3 linked regions of the Homo sapiens genome follow. The protein of the gene in region 2 purifies or fractionates together with the protein of the main gene of each other region. This does not show direct contact. Each region holds a gene or a part of one and is shown on either strand. Other genes may lie near its edges.

Evidence for each region.
Region 1: the proteins of RAB30 (region 2) and TRAPPC10 purify together in Homo sapiens (affinity purification with mass spectrometry; 2 studies listed by BioGRID and IntAct, with this or other methods). This does not show direct contact.
Region 3: the proteins of RAB30 (region 2) and VPS13C purify together in Homo sapiens (affinity purification with mass spectrometry; 2 studies listed by BioGRID and IntAct, with this or other methods). This does not show direct contact.

Annotation. Positions count from the first base shown.
Region 1 is NC_000021.9:44,085,287-44,092,310, reverse strand, and holds part of TRAPPC10 (trafficking protein particle complex subunit 10), read right to left. Parts: intron 5,510-7,024; coding exon 5,351-5,509; intron 4,613-5,350; coding exon 4,383-4,612; intron 2,479-4,382; coding exon 2,378-2,478; intron 389-2,377; coding exon 262-388; intron 1-261. UniProt on the Homo sapiens protein: Specific subunit of the TRAPP (transport protein particle) II complex, a highly conserved vesicle tethering complex that functions in late Golgi trafficking as a membrane tether.
Region 2 is NC_000011.10:83,068,897-83,076,731, reverse strand, and holds the start of RAB30 (ras-related protein Rab-30), read left to right. Parts: upstream 1-4,834; 5' UTR 4,835-5,041; intron 5,042-5,269; exon of another isoform or gene 5,270-5,400; intron 5,401-7,835. UniProt on the Homo sapiens protein: The small GTPases Rab are key regulators of intracellular membrane trafficking, from the formation of transport vesicles to their fusion with membranes.
Region 3 is NC_000015.10:62,050,446-62,057,469, forward strand, and holds part of VPS13C (intermembrane lipid transfer protein VPS13C), read right to left. Parts: intron 1-7,024. UniProt on the Homo sapiens protein: Mediates the transfer of lipids between membranes at organelle contact sites. Necessary for proper mitochondrial function and maintenance of mitochondrial transmembrane potential.

The sequences.
Region 1 (7,024 bases), on a different chromosome or scaffold from region 2:
CTGCACACGTCTACGCATAGAGTGGGACCAGTTTCAGATTTAATTCTTCTAAAAAGAAGAATTCATCCATCCAGCCACCCGCTTACTCAGGAGCAAGCCTCGATCCAGCCTCAGGGCAGCCGGAGGAGCTGCACAGGAGCCTTTACTCATCAGCAGTGCAGCTGTTCTATCTAAAGGCTCAGTCGCAACACATACTACATCATTTCCGTACACTCTGGTTCTCTGTTGAGAAGTTTATGCTCAGGTCTACACAATGTTTACCTGCTGGGACTGCGTGTTCAGTGGTACTAGTTGCAGGTCGGTACTATCACCGGTATCTACAAGATAACTATCTGACAGCTGAAAGTCAAGTTCTGACAAATTCTGGACACAAACTTGAACATATTTCCTAAAGTGGAAAAACAAAAAGTATTATTTTGATATGTAAGAACTTTATTAAATATATCTTAGCTTTGTTAAGGAGACCCTCTCTGCCTGGGGAATCAAAAAAGCAACAAAGCAAAGTAAGCTAAGTTGTTGCATAAGTTTCCCTTCAGATTTCACACCGAAAAGTGCCAGAAAATAAACCTTTTTGGCCGGGCACGGTGGCTCACGCCTGTAATCCCAGCACTTTGGGAGGCCGAGGTGGGCAGATTATGAGGTCAGGAGATTGAGACCATCCTGGCCAACATGGTGAAACCCCATCTCTACTAAAAATATAAAAATTAGCCAGACGTGGTGGCACGTGTCTGTAATCCCAGCTGCTCGGGAGGCTGAGGCACGAGCATTGCTTGAACCTGGGAGGTGGAGGTTGCAGTGAGCTGAGATCACGCCACTGCACTCCAGCCTGGTGACAGGGCGAGACTCCATCTCAAAAAAATAACAAATAAAAATAAATAAAAAAAGTTTTTAAAGAGGCAAGTTCTGTGAGGCAATGGAAGAAAGAATATAGTTTCTGACCAGCCTTATTAAGTGATCATGGCTGGTCACCCTCACTGGCCTTTGGGGAGCCACGGGGAGACAGCAGCAGCCCTCCTCATTACAGGTGAAGACTCTCCATTGAGAGATGATAGGCGGGGCTTATATCCATTTCCATTACATGCAAAACTTTGAAAATATTAATAATAGTTACTATTTTTTGAGACAGAGTCTTGCTCTTGTCGCCCAGGCTGGGGTGCAATGGCACGATCTCAGCTCACTGCAACCTCTGCCTCCCAGGTTCAAGTGATTCTCCTGCCTCAGCCTCCCGAGTAGCTGGGATTACAGGCGCCCGCCACCATGCCCGGCTAATTTTTGTATTTTTAGTAGAGACGGGGTTTCACTATGTTGGTCAGGCTGGTCTTGAACTCCCGACCTCGTGATCCGCCTGCCTCGGCCTCCCAAAGTGCTGGGATTACAGGCATGAGCCACCACGCCCGGCTGAAAAATAATTTTTTAATAAGGTTCTTTTAGAGATTATTGATGTTTTTAACTATTAATATCTACAGTTCCCTTTGCTGTGATTTGAAGGGGAAAAAAGCTGCTAGTATAATGTTCCATTCTAAACATGGGTCTGACGTTTTTGTTTCCAAATTATCCACACATCATCAATGGATAAAAAGTTGTGGTGAGAGGCCAGGCTAGCATCCCGAGCCCATTGATCAACGCTAGCACCGTCACTAAGGTAGGACACCTGGACACCGTGGGCCTCCCGGTGCAGTCAACAGGAAGCACACAGCCCCGCCTGCCTCAAAGCAGAACTGGAGTCTACTCAAGCCTTTAGGGCAGCTGTTTTCCACTGGGGCACGTCCGCCCCACCCAGAGGACACTGGGCAGTGTCTACAGACATCTGTGGCTGCCACACCTGCAGGTGGGGAGTGCTACTGGCATCTCATGGGAGAGCCTGGGGTGCTGCTCAACACCCTACAGCACACAGGAAAGCCCCTACAACAGAGTTATCTAGCCCAAAATGTCACTAATGCTGAGCTTAAAAGCTCCTGTTCTAGAGGTTGCAGGCAATTGACAAGAAATACAGGGACAGGAGAACTAGTTAACAAATCCAGCCAGATCCAGAAAGGCGGGCGTCCAGAGGAAACCTGGCCTGCAAGTGAACAAGTCGATGGCTTGAAAACAGGGAAGAAAGGATGAACAGAGATCTAGTGGTCTGATGGAGATTTTGGACCCCAAGTCACACAAAGCAACCATAAAAGGTCATTTTCAGACAGTTGGGAAAACCTGAATATGAACTGGATGTCACAGGACACCAGGGAATTGTGGATTTTAAGACACAAACAATGGCCTTGTGGTCACATAAGAAGACATCCTTGGTCACCACGAAGGCCAGTTTTGAACATTAGGAACCTCCACTTAGAAGAGTCTGGGGAAAGAAGCCAGGGCCCGCACGCTACGCCTCCGTTACCGTGTTCCTGAGGACAGGAGGCTGTGTGTGGTCCTGAAGGGTACGCTGAAGGTCAGTGCGATGACTGTGGAGTAGATGGACCACGGGCAGTCAATCGACACCTGAGGAGGAAGCACAAAGACACTCTCAGACCACTCGCCGACGGACAGCACAGCCACCACCACTGCTGCCCAGACTCACCTGCAGTGCCCGCCCACGCCCTAGACATTTTATTATGGCTTCAACCACTCATTATCCAGGAAGCAAAGCCTTACCCAACACATACACAAACCAACGAGAAACAGGAAGCTATGCATACAGACAAGAGAAACGAACGCAGAACTGGCAAGACATGCACACATCACCAGAGTCACCTCAACGGCGGAAGAGCACAGCCGTCCTCTAAGCAGCAGACCCACCTGCTGCTCCCATACACGCAGGGCCGCGGAGCCATGCATGTTGCAATGTGCACAGGGTTTTGACAAAGTGCTTTCAGTCATGTATTTCCAGATGACATTAGCCAATCAGTAACTACTCCATAGTTAATGAATTATCTAAGCATTTAATCCATGTGAGGCTGAATATGTAACTGAAAACCAAATCAGTTTAGGGGCACAGTGAGGACAAAGCTATTACATCCCTTAAGGGCAGGAAGGAAGCAAGTCTCAAGCCTTATTCCCCACAGGGAAGAGGTGAATACCCCAGCACACAGCGTGCGTGCCGCCAGTGCCAGGGAAGAGAGGATAACACGGCACATAGCACAGGTGCCACCAGCGCCAGGGAAGAGAGGATAACACAGCACACAGCACAGGTGCCACCAGCGCCAGGGAAGAGAGGATAACACGGCACATAGCACAGGTGCCACCAGCGCCAGGGAAGAGAGGATAACACGGCACATAGCACAGGTGCCACCAGCGCCAGGGAAGAGCGGGGTAACACGGCACACAGCACAGGTGCCGCCAGTGCCAGGGAAAAGAGGATAACACGGCACACAGCACAGGTGCCGCCAGCGCCAGAGAAGAGTGGGATAACACGGCACACAGCACAGGTGCCGCCAGCGCCAGGGAAGAGAGGATAACACGGCACATAGCACAGGTGCCGCCAGTGTCAGGGAAGAGTGGGATAACATGGCACACAGCACAGGTGCCGCCAGCGCCAGGGAAGAGTGGGATAACACGGCACACAGCACAGGTGCCACCAGCGCCAGGGAAGAGCGGGATAACACGGCACATAGCACAGGTGCCACCAGTGCTGCGCGCTCCTGCTGAGCTAAGCGCCACCTTCGTGAATGGTGAACGTCTGTGTGAGTTAAGGGAAAGACACTTCCTCAGGTTCTTCAAAAGCTGAACATTACAACATTCGTCTTCAGGCGTGGACTTGTCTGGTGACTCCGTGCTTTGGAAAGACGGCATGCCTTGCCCTTTGCCCCCGCTGCTCTTGGGCGTATACTGCGGCCCCTGGGCTGTTTCAGGGCCCTCAGGATTGATTTCTGGGCTACGAGACTTGGGCACACCCTGAGTAACATGATGCAGCGACACATTCCATGAGCTGATATCCTGTGGCTCTGGGACCGAAATCACATCTTTCTCAAGTAACTGTCAGTAAGTACCAGCACCAAAGCCTAAAATGAGACAGCTCCTCCGTGGCTGAGCTTATGAGTTTCAGTGGACAGACACCGAGGCACACACGACACAGACCTCCTCTGGCCTCGTCACCGGTCTAATGGACATGACCCAAGTTTTACGCCCCTCATGCCTAAGCCGGCCCTAACCTCTTACAGCAAACTCCCTGGCCCCTGGAACTGAGAGGGAAAGGTAGAGCTGGCTTGTCTCTGCCCTTGCAAAAAATGCACCCCTTATCTAAGAAAGGGTGATTCACAGACAGACAGAACTGCTAAACACATGCCCAGGGCATCGGGAATCAGAAGGAGCCAGGCTAACAGCAGGCATCGCTACATCGCCTTTCCCAGCAGGCAGGCGGGCGGCGGACGCCCCACAAGCTAAGCTCCTCCACTGTCCCTACTCACTTTGTGGTCTGTGGTAACCATGCAGCGGCCAGTTCTCTGTTTGTCCTTATGCTTCCTGTGGGGCTCTGCCATCCCCAGCATGTCACTCTCCCCTCCGAGTGCTGGGGCTGAAGGTAAAGAGAGAACTTCCAGTTCAAATTCGATCACGTGGTACGCAGGCGCAACAGGCAGACTGATGCTCGTGACCTTGTCGGAGGACTGAATCCGGAGCGCGGCCTCAGAAGACTGTTCTACGAAGGACAGAAAAAGTCACTTCAAAGCTGTTCCCTCGGTTTCACTTGTCCTTTTCCTTACAGCAGGTGATGGCCCAGCAGTGAGGCCACTGCTCAACCTCTCCCGCTCCTGCGCACCTGGCAGGCAAACCCAAGAACAAGGCCCCTAGGACAGAGCAGCCCTGTGTGAAAGCCGGCAGGCAGGCGCCCAGACCCATCATTGATCTCAATCTGAAGAGAGGAAAAGGGCATTTCCCACGGGGCCCACCCAAGTCCTGTGTAGGTCCCTGCATGACTTTCTCCCGTTCCAGCTCATCCGCAGATCCACCCCCACCCCAGGGGAGCAGGGTCCTCCCCTTCCCCTTCCTCGTGGCTGGGAGGATGGGAGTGCTCAGGGCTCTCAACAGCACCTGCAAGGGCTGCTCTGCTTTTGCTTCTCGGGAGCAGGGCCAGCCCAAGGGGGACAGGGTCTGGCAGGCATCACCATGGAACGTGACCCCAGCCGTGACCCCCATCTCCTAATCCTCAGCCAGACAAGCACTGCTCGGCCACTCAGCGTGTGAACCACTCTCAGTTTATCACCTCAGATGGGACCCCAGCACAGGCATCAGGCCGCAGGGCTCCTATGGAACACGGACTCCAGACACTGTTGAGGGGCGCTCAGCAGGATGGCAGCAAGGCCAGGCTCACCCTCACACCCACACAGTGCAGGGCAAGGTGGGCATCCTCCTTGGGCCTGGGTGGGCGGCACCTCACCTCTCGTGTTGGAGTAGACCACAGCCCTGCTCTCCGCCTGGCACAGGATGAGCATGGCTTCGGCATTGCTAAGCTGCAGGCTGTCTCCATTCTTTATCGTATAATGGCCGGTAGTGACAGTGAACTTGACTCTCTGAGGAATGCCTGCCAGAAGGCTATCTAAAGGAAAAGAGATCGTGGCTCAGCACCGCTGCCAACCGGAAGACAGCATCTCAGGGCCCGCAATGGGGTGAAAGGGGCTCTATTTCTTTTACTATGAAAGATTTGCTCCTTTGGGATCTCCATGAATTCCTTCTACTTCCATTCCCTTCTGCCCTAACTTTTCATCTCAATGATGTGGACTACAGGGTTGAAGGAGAACCTTGCTGGGGAAAAAAGAATCCTGTGAGTCAAGGAGTCTTATACCCATCTTGGTTCAGCAAGTCAGGGATTATGATCATGACTACGTCTCTGAGGGTCACAAAATTTGCCTGCCCATTAGTAGTAGAAGAGAATCACATAATGAGGCTTAAGAAGAGACTGTAAAGAAAACTTGACTGTGCTGGTGCTGCTCAAATATTCAAAACCTTCTCTGGATTTTTCAGCTTCAGGCCACGGGCTTTTGGGTTAAGAACAGTCAGCAGTCAGGTGGCTCCCCCTCACTCCAAGACAGCAATGAGAGGCAGGAGTGAGCTGAGGCCTCTGAGAATCCTGCTGCAGGGAAGACAGAAGGCAGGCAAGATACCAGGACCGGGGGGAGAGTGGACAGAGACAGGGGACACTAGGCAGGAAGCAGGAGCCAGGCCATGAGCCTGGCACTGCAGCCGCTGGGCCATGGGGAGGGCAGGGCCTGCTGGCTGGTGCTTCGGCTCCCCTGCGGGAATCGAGTTCAGCTTCTCTACACAATGTTCCAATGGAAGAATCACTGGAGAGACTGACTGCTGTGTCCCACATCTGACAGCCTTTGCTGGTGGCCACACAAGAGGCACAAATGCAGAAAAATAGGGGGAATGGGGGAATAACAGAAAAATGCCCTTTGTGATTTTTTTCCACGTAGAAGAAACAGGCAAATAAATAAATCGTTGCTAGCCCGAACAAAGGAGACATTCACTCACTCTTGTTCAGCTGCCACATGTTCTTCAATCATTTGTTTATAGCAACTCCTTCCAATTTTAGAACTTATCAGAAAGGACAATAGCTTTGAATTTCTCAAATGCCATGCCAGACGGACAAGTTTAATCAACCCTTTCAAAGGAAAACTTTTTTTTTTTTTAAGAGATGGAGTTTTGTTCTGTCACCCACGCTGGAGAACAGTGGCGCAATCACAGCTCCCTGAGGCCTCAAACTCCTGGGCTCAGGAGGCTGAGGCAGGAGCCTCAGCTGGGGCTCCAGCCTGTAGCTAGGACTAGAGGCCGTGGCGCACGACTACACCCAGCTAATTTACTTCATTTTTTTATTTTGCAGAGATGGGGTTTTGTCATCCTGCCCCGACTGGCTTACCCATGCTGGTCTCAAAGCCTTGGCCTCCCAAAGTGCTGGGATCTGAGTATAGATCCTAACTAAATCTAGTGTTTAGCATTTGAAACGTACTTCTAAGCAGGAAATTATATACATATTTATGAAACCCTGTGGTAGACATTAGCTGCTTCTTGGCCTAATGTGACACTGTAAAATACACATGTAGTTTTCAACCCC
Region 2 (7,835 bases):
CCCAGCACTTTGGGAGGCAGAGGCAGACGGATCACTTGAGGTCAAGAGTTCCAGACCAGCCTGGCCAACATGGTGAAACCCCGTCTCTACTAAACATACAAAAATTAGCCGGGTGTGGTAGTGCCTGCCTGTAGTCCCAGCTACTTGGGAGGCCGAGGCAGAAGAATTGCTTGAACCTGGGAGGCGGAGGTTACAGTGAGTAGAGATCGCGCCACTGCACTCCAGCCTGGGCGACAGAGCAAGGCTCTGTCTCAAAAAAAAAAAAAAAAAAAAAGTAATCTGTTAGATCTGTTAGCAAGATTATATGATTACATAATGGTACACTTGATGGGAATTAGGAACATACCGATATATTCCTGTATGAACTCAAGTCACTTAACCAGACCACTTCCTAAGCTGTAAAGAGGAAGCTTTGAATATTAAATGCTTATCTGAAACCATTTGGAAAAGCAAAGTTTATTAATACCACTCTGAAGTATCTGAAGCTCATACTCAATTATTTAAATTAGGAACTTAAGCTCCTCTATTAAAAGGAAAATGTGTATTTTCTTGTTGAAACATAAAATATAAAGCACATTTCATGTGTACTACTGTCTTAAAAATTGAGAGTCCAACATTAAAATTAAACAAGTATTGAACTGCATTATACAAGAAATCAAAATCATGACAAAAAAAATCCACTGTTTAAAGAGTAAAGAGAAACAGTGGTGAGCTTGCTGTATCATTAAAGACACTGAACAGGTAAGATAATTGGATTCTAATTCTGCCCTGCCTTTGCCATCAATGTACAGTGTGACCACTAGCAATTTTTAATTTCACTGTGTGCATGCCCATTTCCTTATCTGTAAAACATGGGCTGAGGAATTTGTAAGATTTCTCAGCTCTAAAAAGGGGTCTCTGTGACCTAAAAGATACTCTATTATAATATCATTTGTTCAAAGATCATAAATATTAACATCAATAACTTAAAAATTCAAGACTTAGGGCAAGAAAATTTTTATTTTCAGAAAATTCTAAACAATATATTGTCTCTGGATACTTCAGCTTTTAAGTTTCTGCATAACTATCATAATTTTACCACAGCGTTGAGCTCTTACTAGGTGTCTCTTAACATTAGACTTTCTTAATATTAGGCTAAACCCTCATTCTAAGAAATATACAGGTTAGTCAGGATATCATGGTTGGTCCCTTTTTTTTTTTTTTTTTTAAACGGGAGTTTTGCTGTTATTGCCCGGGCTAGAGTGCATTAGCACAATCTCGGATCACTGCAACCTCCGCCTTCCAGTTTCAAGCGATTCTCCTGCCTCAGCCTCCCAAGTCGCTGGGATTACAGGCACCCGCCACCACACTCAGTTAATTTTTTGTATGTTTAGTAGAGACGGGGTTTCACCATGTTGGTCAGGCTGGTCTTGAACTGCTGACCTCGTGATCCACCCACCTCGGCCCCAAAGTGCTGGGATTACAGGCGTGAGCCACCGTGCTTGGCCCGGTTGGTCCTCTTAAAGCTAAAACTGATCTCATCTCCTCTCACTCCCCTCTCCCTCCCACAATTGCCATGTGTAAACCGTTCACCAGGTAAATTCCTTATCTACACATTTTCAGAATTCATTCATGGGTATAATTAGCAATAAACCTAAAATCTTTCTCAAAGCTTTTGTTATTGTGTGACTTACTGCAAAAATACAAACACAGGATGTAGAGGACTACTCCACCCAACTCTTGTAGACTCACCTATAGTTTTAAAAACACAATACTTGGTTCTAACCCTGGAGATTTCAACAGGGATGGGAAGGTAACAGCCATATACTTTTAGAGCTGTATAGGTTATCCTGACACCTCTACTGAAAAAAACCCTTGCTCTAACAGCAATTGGCTTCATACTCTTAAATGAGCTACCTATAATTTTAATACAAATCCATGTCCTAATTCTCTTTATTATTTTTTTGAGATAGGGTCTTGCTGTTGCCCAGGCTGGAGTACAGTGGCTCAATCTCTGCTCACTGCCACCTCCACCTCCCCAGTTCAAGCGATTCTCCTGCCTCAGCCACCCTAGTAGCTGGTATTACAGGCGCACGCCACCACACCTGGCTAACTTTTCTATTTCTTGGAGATGGGGTTTCGCCATGTTGGCCAGGCTGGTCTTGAACTCCTGGCCCCAAGTGATGTGCCCATCTCGGCCTCCCAAAGTGCTAGGATTACAGGTGTCAGCCACTGTGCCTGGCCCTAATTCTTTTTTGAGAGATGAAAAGCTTTACCTCCTCTAGATATTCCTAATTCCACTTTAACAATATTTTCCTAAGTTGTGGTGTTTCTATGGGACACTGTTATTTTTTCAGAAGCTGGCCTCCCCAACTCCTCAAATATCAATTTTATAAATAAAATTTATAATGAGTGCAGGATTTTTTCATCTTTATGGTCAGATGTCCATTAGATACAAGGATAGAAAAACTTCAAACTACCCAAACACATGACAAATTATAGAAATCACTGTATTCTAGAGGTATCACTTCTCAAACACAAGCTTTCTTTCTTTTTTAAAAACAGACATAGTCTCACTGTTGTCCAGATTGGAGTACAGTGACACAATCATAGCTCACTGCAGCCTCAAACTAATGGGATCAAGTGATCCTCCTGCCTCAGCCTCCCAAGTAGCTAAGCCTACTGGCATGCACTACTATGCCCAGCTCACACAGAAGGTTTCTGAGTAATCTGTTGCTCTTTTTCCCTACAATTTGTCTTCCATATAACTCAAACTGACAAGGCTATGGCTTACATAAAGAAATATATTATAAATCAACAACACTCATGATAAGTTTACATAAGACATGAGAATACACCTGAATCACCAACCGGGAAAAATGATTGAAGAGCTTGAAATTAAGCCTAAGTGTAAGTCTCTGTTAAGCTTACAACATTACAATAGTTAAATCGAAGGTTAGAAAGAAAATGGTAGACATTGCTCCTTTTCCTGTACTTACCACCATTACTTAGAGAAGTTTCTGAATAACAACAACTTTGAGCCTTTTTCATTGTTGTATTCATGGATGACACCAACACATACTACTTCTGCTTAAAAATCAAACTCATTCATCTTGACTTGTTCCCAGAAACATGACACAGAAGATCATTTTTTGAAAAAGTATTTTTGTAATTACCATCTGCATACACCTGAGAGACTGTTTCTAACATGTTTTGGTCATTTTTAATCATTCTATCTGCCTTTCTTTGTTATAAGGATCTATTTTTAATTTTATTCACTCCTAACATAGAGGGGAAGTGCATACCTTCAATGACGCAAAGTAACTAGTTAATGTTGTTTCAGAATAATATGCAAAAGGGAAGGGAGGAAACAGCACAAAGTATATCATATTTTTACACATCAGACACCTTCAGGAAGAAAGGACATTTCTCATCTTAGTGTGACAGACTCTGAAAAAGAACACACAGCACTGTTTCAGTGACACAAGAAAAAAAGTACAGTTCATTTTGAGATACTGTGCAAAATCACTCAAAAGACAATTAACTTTGGTTTCAGTCACTTAGTTAAAAAAAAAATTTATCCATGACCGATGTTACTCTGGAATCTATTGCCAGACGTCAGAAGGCCTATCATCAATAATATCCCACCCCTCCCGCCTTTTCTGAGACACGGGCTTGCTGTCGCCCAGGCTGGAGCACAGTGGTAGGATCGAGGCTCACTGCAGCCTCAACATCCCGGGCTCAAGCGATCCTCCCACCTCAGCCTCTAGTGTAGCTGCAACTACAGGGGTACACCACCATGCCCAGCTAATTTTTTTGTTTAATGTTTTTGTAGAGACGGTACGGGGTCTCCGCATGTTGCCCAGGCTGGGGTTGAACTCCTAGAATCACGCTATCTCCCCGCGTCTGCCCCCAAAGTGCTGGGATTAAAGGCGTGAGCGACCGCACCTGGCCAATATCCCCTTTGAACATCTGCTTTCGCTGGTTGGTAAAAAAGTGTCATTTTAAATTTAGTGTTACTCCTTCAGGCTATTCCCTCTCTCTTCTTACTTGCAGGGCCAAAGCAACGTCTCTTTCCACCTTGGTCACCTTCCAACAACGATTTCTTCGGACGCCTTTGTTAATCATTCCTGTATGAAAAATCAGTGAATCTGAAGCTTTGGGGAGAGTGAAAGGGGGTTGGAAAACAAACGGCAAAACAAAAATGCATTTCGGAGGACTACCCCAACTCTGTGGGTGGAAGTGGGCTTCTCCGAATAAAGGCGAGGGTCGCCGCCTCGGGTCCTCGCACCTCAACAAAAGACACCAACTCTCTCAACTGTACTGTTAACAGATCTAAATGATACTCCAAGCCCAAAAGTAAACCGACTCTCTCAATCTCTTAGCTAAAAAATGGAGAAGGAAGCGTAGGGCCCCATGCAACCCCTTCAGGAGCTGAGACCGAGGCTCACTGGGCCTCTGGATGCCGCTTCCAGTCGGTCCCGCCCTACATCAGTCCCCAGCATGGCCTCCACCCTCTGGTTCCCAGGTTCGTGCCCGCGGCTATCCGACCAGATCGTCCTCCACCTCACCGTCCCCACTGAACCACCACTTGACTCCTGCGCACCCCTAAAACCTCTGCCCGGCTCCGCGGAATCGTCCCAGTACTCCTAACATGGCGGCCGAGTCCCCTTTGCTCCTTCACTCTGGGCGCGTCCCACTTGGAGCATTTTGGGCATTGTAGTTTCGGGGATTGCCTGGGTATCCCTTCAGGACGTAAGAAGACTACAGTTCCCAGAAAGCACCGCTCCCGAGCATGGCTATTGGGGACGTTTGGACAGAGGGATGATGTCATTGCAAAAGCCCCACTGCATTCATTGTGCTACGGTCTCTCCACCCCCTGCTGCTGCTGGGCTTGCGATTGCCGCTCGCTCCAGCTGAGCTAAGTGTAGCAGCAGCACCAGGGCAGGGACTGACTCCAGCCCTTGGACTCAGGACATCGCAGACCTTCCCTTGCGTGCGTGACTCATTCGCACATCCATTTCTGTTTATGCCTGGGGTGGGGAGAAAAATCCCAAACCAGGTGAGTTGAAGTGATTTATTCAAATGCTTCTACCAAGTTATTCCTCCCGCTTAGTTCTCAAGGCTTTCTTTTGGGAAGCTGTGAGCGGTGGGGAGGTGGGGGGGATTGGGGAGAGGCTTGCAGGCACAGCTAAGGGGAAAAGCTCTGTGCCATTTGGGTCACTGCAAAGAACAACTCCAGCAACCTTCCCCCGCCAGAGGACGGGTGCCTGCCAATTCCCTAGTCGCAACTCCTCTCAACCTTTTTGAGGCGGAGAGAGGGGGCTGGGCTGGGAAGGATGTTGGGGAGTGCTCTTGGAAAATCTGAGGAAGGCAGAGGTGGGGGACTGCAGTCCTGTCACACACGGCCCGAGAGCTGAGGTTTGAGTGGGAAGGGGTGATGCGTGGGGAGAAATGGAGACAGTGAATTAATGTGGTCGCACTACTTTAGAACATTTGAATGTCGCTTGGACGAGCACTAGTTATTAATTTTTAAGATGAACGTGCTTAAGTTTTGTAGGGCTTTATTTTATGTGTGTATGTCTATGTGGTTTGTCTCGCCTTTTCTGCTGATTTGAGGTGACAGTGTCCTTTAATGGTGCACTCCGTGCCAGTCAGAAACATTTCACGTGTCTGGCGAAGGTTCTTTCAGGCTGCTGGAAGCAGCGTTTTTGTTAAATGTTTTCCGTTCTCCGACTGCTGGATTCAAGATTGTTTGGAAGTGGAGCCGACAGATTTGTGCTTGTGTGTTTTAAATTACATTGCATAGGCTCTTTGCCACTGACAATGGTACCATAATGAGCTGCTGTTTCCTGAGGCATAGTCACTACTCACAAATAACGGTTTGAAGAGATCGATTAGGGAAGAGGGGTTCATTTTAACACATTAGAGAAAGGGAAAGTTAGAAGCGCTGTTAACCTTCATTTGCCATTACTGAAAGGTGCCCATGGAAGAGTGATTTTGGTTGTTTTGTTATTGTTGTTTTTTTAAACGAACTGACATTTAACAGGAGAGAAAGCATTCTGACTTACATGATGCTCTTGTAAGAGTTATAGGGATAATTAGGGCAATAGATATGTTACTTTGAGATAAACAGCTGGCTGGCTCCACAACAGATGGGGCCAGTCTTGGCTGAGAGATCTACACCCTTGGAAATGAATGGGCCTGGGGTCAACCACACCCCCTCTTGGAATGTCAAAAGAAGGAGAAATGCCAGAGTATTTGCTTAACTCTAGAATGCTAAACCTTTTCCTAGCTGAGTCAGACATGGGCGAAATTCTTTACTGGCTGTCTTCTGCTGCTAAGCCAATTTTGTTCATTTTAAATTCAGATCCTTAGGTCTCCAAAGTTGTAGCTGTGTGATATTTCATTAAATGCTGCTTGATGCTGAATGCAAAGGACAGTCCATTGTATGGGCTTTGTAGTAGAGTGATTTATTGGGATGCCAATGAGCAGCTTTTGGATTTGGGAAAAGATCAACAGTTAGCCTTTGCCTCTGCGTCTCTCTGTTGATGACGCTCTGCTCTTCTGGACACCCTACCCTTCTCTCCTGTACTTTCATTTCTTCCCCCCACCCCACCCCATCCCACCCACATCTCTTGAAATTCTGTTTATTTCTCTATCTCTCCATTTGCAGTTTACATTTTTCCTTTCTGTTTCAAAACCCCTCCTTTATCACCAGCATATCACATCTCTTTCTCTTCAATCTTAGAACACACTCCCTGGTCCTCCACTTCAACTAGGAACTCCTGGGTGGATGTAGACTATGTGAATATTTTTGCAGAATCCTCTTTGAAGAGAATTTCTTTGCCTTTTCTTTTTCTTGCAGTCTGTGCTTGGCAGGATGAGCAGCAATGAGCCTGACCCCTGGTCTGGTTTGTAGTTCCTGTGACAGACATAATTTAGCCCCAGCAGCATGTGAACAATGAAATGCTGCAGTTGGGCTCATGCCACTTTTCCTTTCACTGGCACCTGCCTATGGATTAGCAAGGTTTTTAAATGCTCTACATGAAATGTTCTCATAATTCCCAAGGAATAAGTAGTCTTCAAGTGGCTTGCCTTATACAATACATTTTTTTTTTCCTTATCCTTGCTGCAGCTGGTGGTGGGAAGGCTGATCTTTCCCCCCTCTTTCTTCCTGTTCCCTGTGGATTGCTGAGTAGCAATCCAGGTGGCCAAACTGCCCATTTGGTTTTTTGAAGATACTTGGAGGACAACAGTTCCCCACCCACCCTGGTTGTTTCTTCTCCTCTGTGCAGGAAAGAAGTTTGTTATTTTATTCTCTTCTCTTAACGGGAAGAGTGTGATAGTGGCTATATTTGTTTATGTAACAGCAGTGCTCCTCTAGGTGTGGAAAGTCTAACTGCTATCCATCTGGAGGCAACTAGTGTAACAGGCAGATTCAGAAGCTGTCCTCTTAGACCTTTTATGCACCATCTTCTCATTCCTAATTTTCTTCTTCTGAAATACTTCCTTACCCACCAAAGTTTCTTTTATTGTCCTAGGGAGGAGAAATGGGCTGAATGTAGTGTTAGATTTGGCCTCATCACTGCTGTCTCTGGGACCTTAAATAACTATTCATTTCTTTCTGCTTCGGTTTACTTATTTGCAAAGGGATAATGATCCTTGCTCTTTGGTTTACTGATGTTATAGCCCTCTATAATCTGGCCCCAACCTATAATTCTGACAATTTATATTGATTGAGCAGCTACCATGTACTAAGCACTGTGGATACATCAGTGAAAACAAATGCTTTCCCTGACTTCATGGAGCTTATATTCTAATAGGGGATATACTTAATAAATAATTGCAAGTGT
Region 3 (7,024 bases), on a different chromosome or scaffold from region 2:
ACTGCTAGAAAGTCACCATAGTTTCAAAGCCAATCTTGAAAGATATTTTAAGAAATATACTAAAAGGGCCAGGTGCAGTGAGTGGCTCATGCCTGTAATCCCAACACTTTGGGAGACCAAGGCGATTGGATCACTTGAGCCCAGCAGTTGGAGACCAGCCTTGCCAACATGGCGAAACCCTGTCTCTACCTAAAAAATACAAAAAAATTAGCCAGGCATGGTGGCAGGTGCCTGTCATCTCAGATACTCAGGATTCTGAGGCAGAAGAATCACTCGAACCAGAAGGGCAGAGGTTGCAGTGAGCCAGGATCATGCCACTGCACTCCAGCCTCAGTGACAGCCAGAGCAAGACCCAGTCTCAAAAAAAAAAAAAAAAAAAAGTAAATCCTGGATCAAAACTGGATCAAAATTTAGTATTCTTCAACAGTGAACCAGAAGATGAAAATGGAAGTAAATTAGCAAATGACATGAAGAGTTGGAGTCATCGCAAAAAAAAAAAAGTAGAAATAGTTGCTAGTTATAGAAAACAACCAAGCTAGTGTATTTATGAATAAAAATCAAATGGTACTAGCACAATAAGGAAAAGCCTGCCTAAGTCCAAGAATGGCTTTTTAAATACATAATGGCCTACAAAATAAATGTAAGAAATATAGTCCTATTGTTAAGTACCTCCAACCAGAAATAATCTCTCTAAACTTTTGCAGAAATTTAGGCTATAGCTTTCTTATGGTGCGTAACACTTAACTTTATATAAATCCCCAGTCTGATTATAAACTTCTTACTGATTCTCCTCAGAGTAGGTACTCGATAAATACTGACTTCAGAATGCATATTGTACTGGGGTGGAACCAACTACAATAAGGTCATAAATCTTTATATTTTAGAAAACACTTTCAGATGTATAACATTACTCAATCCTCACAGCCTCCTGGGCAAGAAACAGGTTGTATACATTAAGCAATAGAAGCTGAGGCTTAGAGAGGTTAAATGACTAGCCCAAGAATCCTATGGCAACCTAATAGTAAGTGGCAGTCTCAAGGCTCAAATCTTATAAAACTCAATGCTATCTTCAGAATAACACTGTTCTCCCGAATAGCAGAGCATAAAGCGTATAGGATTTTAATTCAGAAGGTAATTCGACCTCCCTGGACAACAAAAATGCCATAAAAGAATCAGACTCAGCATTCACAGGCCAGCGTGGTTGTCGGTTCCACTTTTGGTCTCTGTATTTGCAAAGAGACGTAAAAAAATCCAAAACAAAAAGGATAACTAAAATTAGTATAACAAGGGCACAGGCAGAACGGTAGGATAGAGTCAAGGGGGTTATGTTCAGAGCATAACCAGAAGAAAACGTAGTGCCACAGGGAAAAACAGATGCAGGAGATGGTATTACAAAATGGTCATTTTAGTACTTTTTAAAAATCTATTTTTTTCCTCAAAAGACAGAAATTCACAAGTTATGATTTAGAACTATTTGGGACCATAAAGATTTTCAAATCTAAGCCCCTCTCACTTTATACATGAAGAAATTAAAGTCTAAAGAGATCTGGTAGTTTATCCAAGGTTATACAATTTTTTTGTGGCAGTACTAAGAATAGAATCTATGTCTCCCAACTCCTAGGTCAACTTTCTTAATATAAAACATAGAGGTTAATCCAAAACTGTGATTAAACACAAAAACCATCCAACAAACAAAAATGCCATGCCATAATCCATGAAACTAGCTTTGCATATAAAGAATAGTGAAATAAAGAATGCTTTGTATTTATTTTTTAAGATTTTGTTTATGTATCTATAACATAAACATTATTTAGTTGAAAGCATATCTGAATGTTCTGACACAATTCATTTTCCAGGGAGGTGAGCTAAAGTAGATGACTGAACAGTTTTTTAAAGCAAAGCATGAATCAAATTATTTTAATGATTTATGTTTTAGTAAAGAATACCAGGCCTGGTGCGGTGACTCACGCCTGTAATCCCAGCACTTTGGAAGGCTGAGGCAGGTGGATCACAAGGTCAGGAGATCAAGACCATCCTGATACGGTGAAACCCCGTCTCTACTAAAAAATACAAAAAAATTAGCCAGGCGTGGTGGCGGGTGCCTGTAGTCCTAGCTACTGTGGAGGCTGAGGCAGGAGAATGGCGTGAACCCAGGAGGCAGAGCTTGCAGTGAGCCGAGATTGTGCCACTGCACTCCAGCCTGGGCGACAAAGCAAGACTCCGTCTCAAAAAAAAAAAAAAAAAAAAAAGAATACCAAAGAAAATATTATAGCTATTCATTTCAAATGAATCTAGCTAGTCAACCCAAATTAACCAATCTAGACTCCTTTTAATGAGTTCACAGTGACTTTGTCTTCAGAGAGGAAGACAGGAAAGAGAAAGGAAACAACTCTCTCACTCTTCCCATTTCCCTACTGAAACAGGAAGTTTTGACAAAGGAAGGTAGAAAGCTGCAACATCACCACTGAACTTTCTCCCTTTCAGTTCACTTCAGGGATCCCATAATATTGAGTAATGTGGTAGAGCTTCCTAGCAGAATGGTTACCAAAATACCAATTCTCAGTTTTAGTTCTAGAAAAGGAGTTAATTTTTAATTAGTAATGCTACTTAAATATGTGAACAGGTGCTTAAATTTAAATTTTTAAGCACCGCTTTAACTGGTAGTAACTGAGCCTAAATATGTATTACACTAATGACCTTTTCATTATTGTTTACTTTTATATGCCATAGGACAAGCTAATGAGAAATGTGGCCTCCACTACACCAAGTGCTGGCTGGGAGGAAAAGACTAAAGAAAATCCCTCTACAGGTTTAGAAATACCTAGATACTGACATCTTTTATGTGTCAAAGCCAAAAAAAGCAAAAAGAGCTGCTTTTTCTTTCATTCTCAAGCTGCCCTACAGGTACCTGTTAAGACAATATATTACAGTATATTACACTTGGACCCACAAATATCAGCATGAGCCTGGAACTTCATTTATCTTGTCACTGTCATTGACTGTGGCTCTTTACTCACCAATATCGGGTGAAGAGCAAAAAGGAAAGATAAAGATACATTATTTAACTACCTTTTCTCTCTATGAATGCGGAGGAAGTGGCAGTACCACTCATCCAATGAAGGATCTCACGTTGTTCTTGCCTTGCTCAAATCACAGAAGTTTAAAGACAGAAGAGATGACCTTGTCTAACCTTTCCACTTACAGATAAGCAACCAATGGTCACTTGTCAGAGACATGCCAAAAGCCACACAACTAGACAGAATCAGAGATGGAATAAGATTAAAGAGGTTTGCTCATTCCCAGTCCAGTGTTCATTCTCCTTTCTTATGCTGCACTGCTCCAACAATATCTGGCAGCTCAAGGGGAAGTGTCAAGAGTGGGATAAACTGTCAGGAGTGGGATAAACAGCACGGGTTCAGTCTGGTTTGCAGGGCCACAGATTCTGAGGGCATTGCACTTGGCTTCTATTCCTGGTCACCAGAGTCACCCTTGTATCTAACACATCACAGTTCCTATGTTGATTCCACCTGTCCAGTGGAATTAAGAACAACAGAGTTCCGAGTACTGGAGGATTTTCCTGCTGACTCTCCACAGTAAATCATTTTGAAAAATCAAATTGACAAAGGTTCTACATTGCAACAATACTACTCAAATCATATTGCAAAAGATGAGGCATTTCAACATACCTTTTCAAATATATGTTACTCTTAAAACAATTATATCCTGGACACATCTCAATAGCTAAGGGCTGTGAAATTTATCTATTGGTACCAGTTTGTGGGGAACAAAAATCTAGATAAACCTTCCTACTTATGTAGGCAGTATGTACCCACCAGGCACTTTTCTGAACCTCTGAAAGCCTGACTTACAAACTAGCTGGCAGGTAATACTGTAAAAGCATAAGCATAAATTCAAAGGCAAATAGAGGTTTTTTTTAAAAGAAATTTGTTTGGAAAATAAGAAATGTTTAGATATGTAATGATAGCTCTACACAAAATTATCACTCAATAGAAGATTGATACCTCTAAGAAAACCAAACAACACATGTTCTCATTCATAAGTGGGATTTGAACAATGACAACACATGGACACAGGGAAGGGAACATCACACACCAGGGCCTGTCAGGAGGTGGGAGGCAAGGGGAGGGAGAGTATTAGGACAAATACATAATGCAGGGCTTAAAACCTAGATGACAGGTTGATAGGTGCAGCAAACCACCATGGCACATGTATACCTATGTAACAAACCTGCACATTCTGCACATGTATCCCAGAACTTAAAGTAGAAGTAAAAAAAAAAAAGAAGAGGAAGAAGAAGAAGAATATTAATACCTCTAAAAGTCTGAAGTTAGAAGAAACATCCTTATGAAAATAAAACAAAGACTGTTTTCCATCACCCAGCCAGGTTTGTTAATCATTATTATTATCAATATTATCAACAATGACAAAGGTTTTTGACATAATCTATCTCAACAATACACTGAAAGTTGTATATCCACTTTACAGATTACGAGAGTGAGAACTGAAATGTTTTGCCCAGGGTCCCACAGCTAATAAATAACCAAGGTCTCAATTATCTACAGTGGCAAGGATTTTTAAAAGGAAATTCTGCTTAAACTACTTTTAAAAATACATAAGAATTGCTTGGCATTAAATAAAATCTTTAAAGAACAGAAACAGAAAGACAATGGTAGGCTGTGTTTGCTTTGCTTCTCAAATTTAAAGGCAACATCTAAAGTATACTTCCTGATTCTGGACATTCCAGTAATTTTCCCCAACCTTCTCAACCTTTTTTTTTTGAGACGGGAGTCTCGCTCTGTCACCTAGGCTGGAGTGCAGCGGTGCAATCTCTGCTCACTGCAACCTCTGCCGCCCAGGTTCACACCATTCTCCTGCCTCAGCCTCCAGAGTAACTGGGACTACAGGCGCCTGCCCCCATGCCCGGCTAATTTTTTGTATTTTTTTTTTTTTTTTTTTAGTGGAGACGGGGTTTCACTGTGTTAGCCAGGATGGTCTCGATCTCCTGACCTCGTGATCTGCCTGCCTCGGCCTCCCAAAGTGCTGGGATTACAGGTGTGAGCCACGGTGCCTGGCCTCTCAACCTTTTTTAATTGTAAATTTCATTATGAACGCCTATATATACATATATGAATATATGCACACTATGATGTTTTCCAAATCATGTTAACACAATATTTCGATCTTAAAACTACTTCCAAAGATCATCCAAGCAAAGATTACGCATTTTTATTGACATGATACCTTTCAGTCACTTAAGATATCAATTTCTCTCTCGAATTACAGATTTCGTTAAGAGTAATCTACTTCTTCCGTGTCCTTTTTAAAACCTTACAATTTTTTCAGCACCCAGTAGGTCCCTTACAAATGCAGAAGACAATCTCAGTCTTCTTCTTAGACTAGGGTTTCTCAACTAACATTTTGAGCTGGACAATTCGCTGCAGGAAGTTGTCCTCTGCATTGTAGAATGTTTAGCAGTACTCCAGGGTCTATCTGCTACATGCCAATAGCACACCTCTTCCCTCAGTGTGGCAACCAAAAAGTCTCAGACACTGTCAAATATACCCTGGGTACAAAGTCACCTCCCACTGAAAATCACTGCTTTAGGCTAGTTAGACATTCCAGTTAAGATGTATCAAAGTAGTTTATCAATTGATTCCAAAGAATAGTAAGATCAGGTATGTGAGGTGGGCGGCAAGCCACCCAGGCGCCAAGGCAAGAGACCAAGGACACGAGCTGTTCCAGTATAATAAAATATAAAACAAGAATAGTTATACCATATAGATCTTAGAGATATATGAATATCATTAATCATTAGTTTGCAGTAATTACTCTTTATCCCAATATTATAATAATCCTCGCTGTACAATCATAACCTAGGAAAAACCAGGCCATACAGAGATAGGAGCTGAGGGGACATAGTGAGGTGTGACCAGAAGACAAGAGTGCGAGCCTTCTGTTATGCCCGGACAGGGCCAGCAGAAGGGCTCCTTGGTCTAGCGGTAACGCCAGCATCTAGGAAGACGCCCGTTGCCGAGCGGAAGGTGGTCTAGCGGTAGCGAAAAGTGTCAAGGAAAAACACCCGCGACTTAGCAGACCAGGGAAGGGAGGCTCCCTTTCCCCGGGGGAGTTTAGATAAGACTCTGCTCCTCCACCTCTTGTGGAGGGCCTGACATCAGTCAGGCTTGCCCGCAGTTATCCGGAGGCCTAACCGTCTCCCTGTGATGCTGTGCTTCAGTGGTCACGCTCCTAGTCCGCCTTCATGTTCCATCCTGTACACCTGGCTCTGCCTTCTAGATAGCAGTAGTCAATTAGTGAAAGTAGTAAAAGTCTCTGATATGCAGAAATAACGGCATAAGCTATCTTTCTCTCTGTCTCCTCTCTCTCTCTGCCTCGGCTGCCAGGCAGGGAAGGGCCCCCTGTCCTGTGGACACGTGACCCACGTGACCTTACCTATCATTGGAGATGACCCACACTCTTTACCCTGCCCCTTTTGCTTTGTATCCAATAAATAACAGCGCAGCCAGACATTCGGGGCCACTACCGGTCTCCGCGCATTGGTGGTAGCGGTCCCCCGGGCCCAGCTGTCTTTTCTTTTATCTCTTTGTCTTGTGTCTTTATTTCTACACTCTCTCGTCGCCGCACACAGGGAGAGACCCACCGACCCTGTGGGGCTGGTCCCTACAGTGAAATATTTACAAGATGAATTCTTCCCTTTCTCAAGACTTGAAAATTCAACAACAACAACAAAAAAAAAACTCTGTGAACTGTAAACCTTATCTGCTAAAGCAAATAGTTGTCAAAGAAGATTATATAGAATTTTCAATTTTTTGTAAAACTTGTCAACATCATGGTTATCATAAAATGTCACCTATTTTATTAAATTAATATTCCCATTTGTTTACCCAAAAAAGTTTAAGACAAATTTCTTTAGCAATATTTTGAAAGAACAGGAAAAATCAACTCAGATATCTTGCCTTCCAATTTTATTGAGAAATTAGGGTTA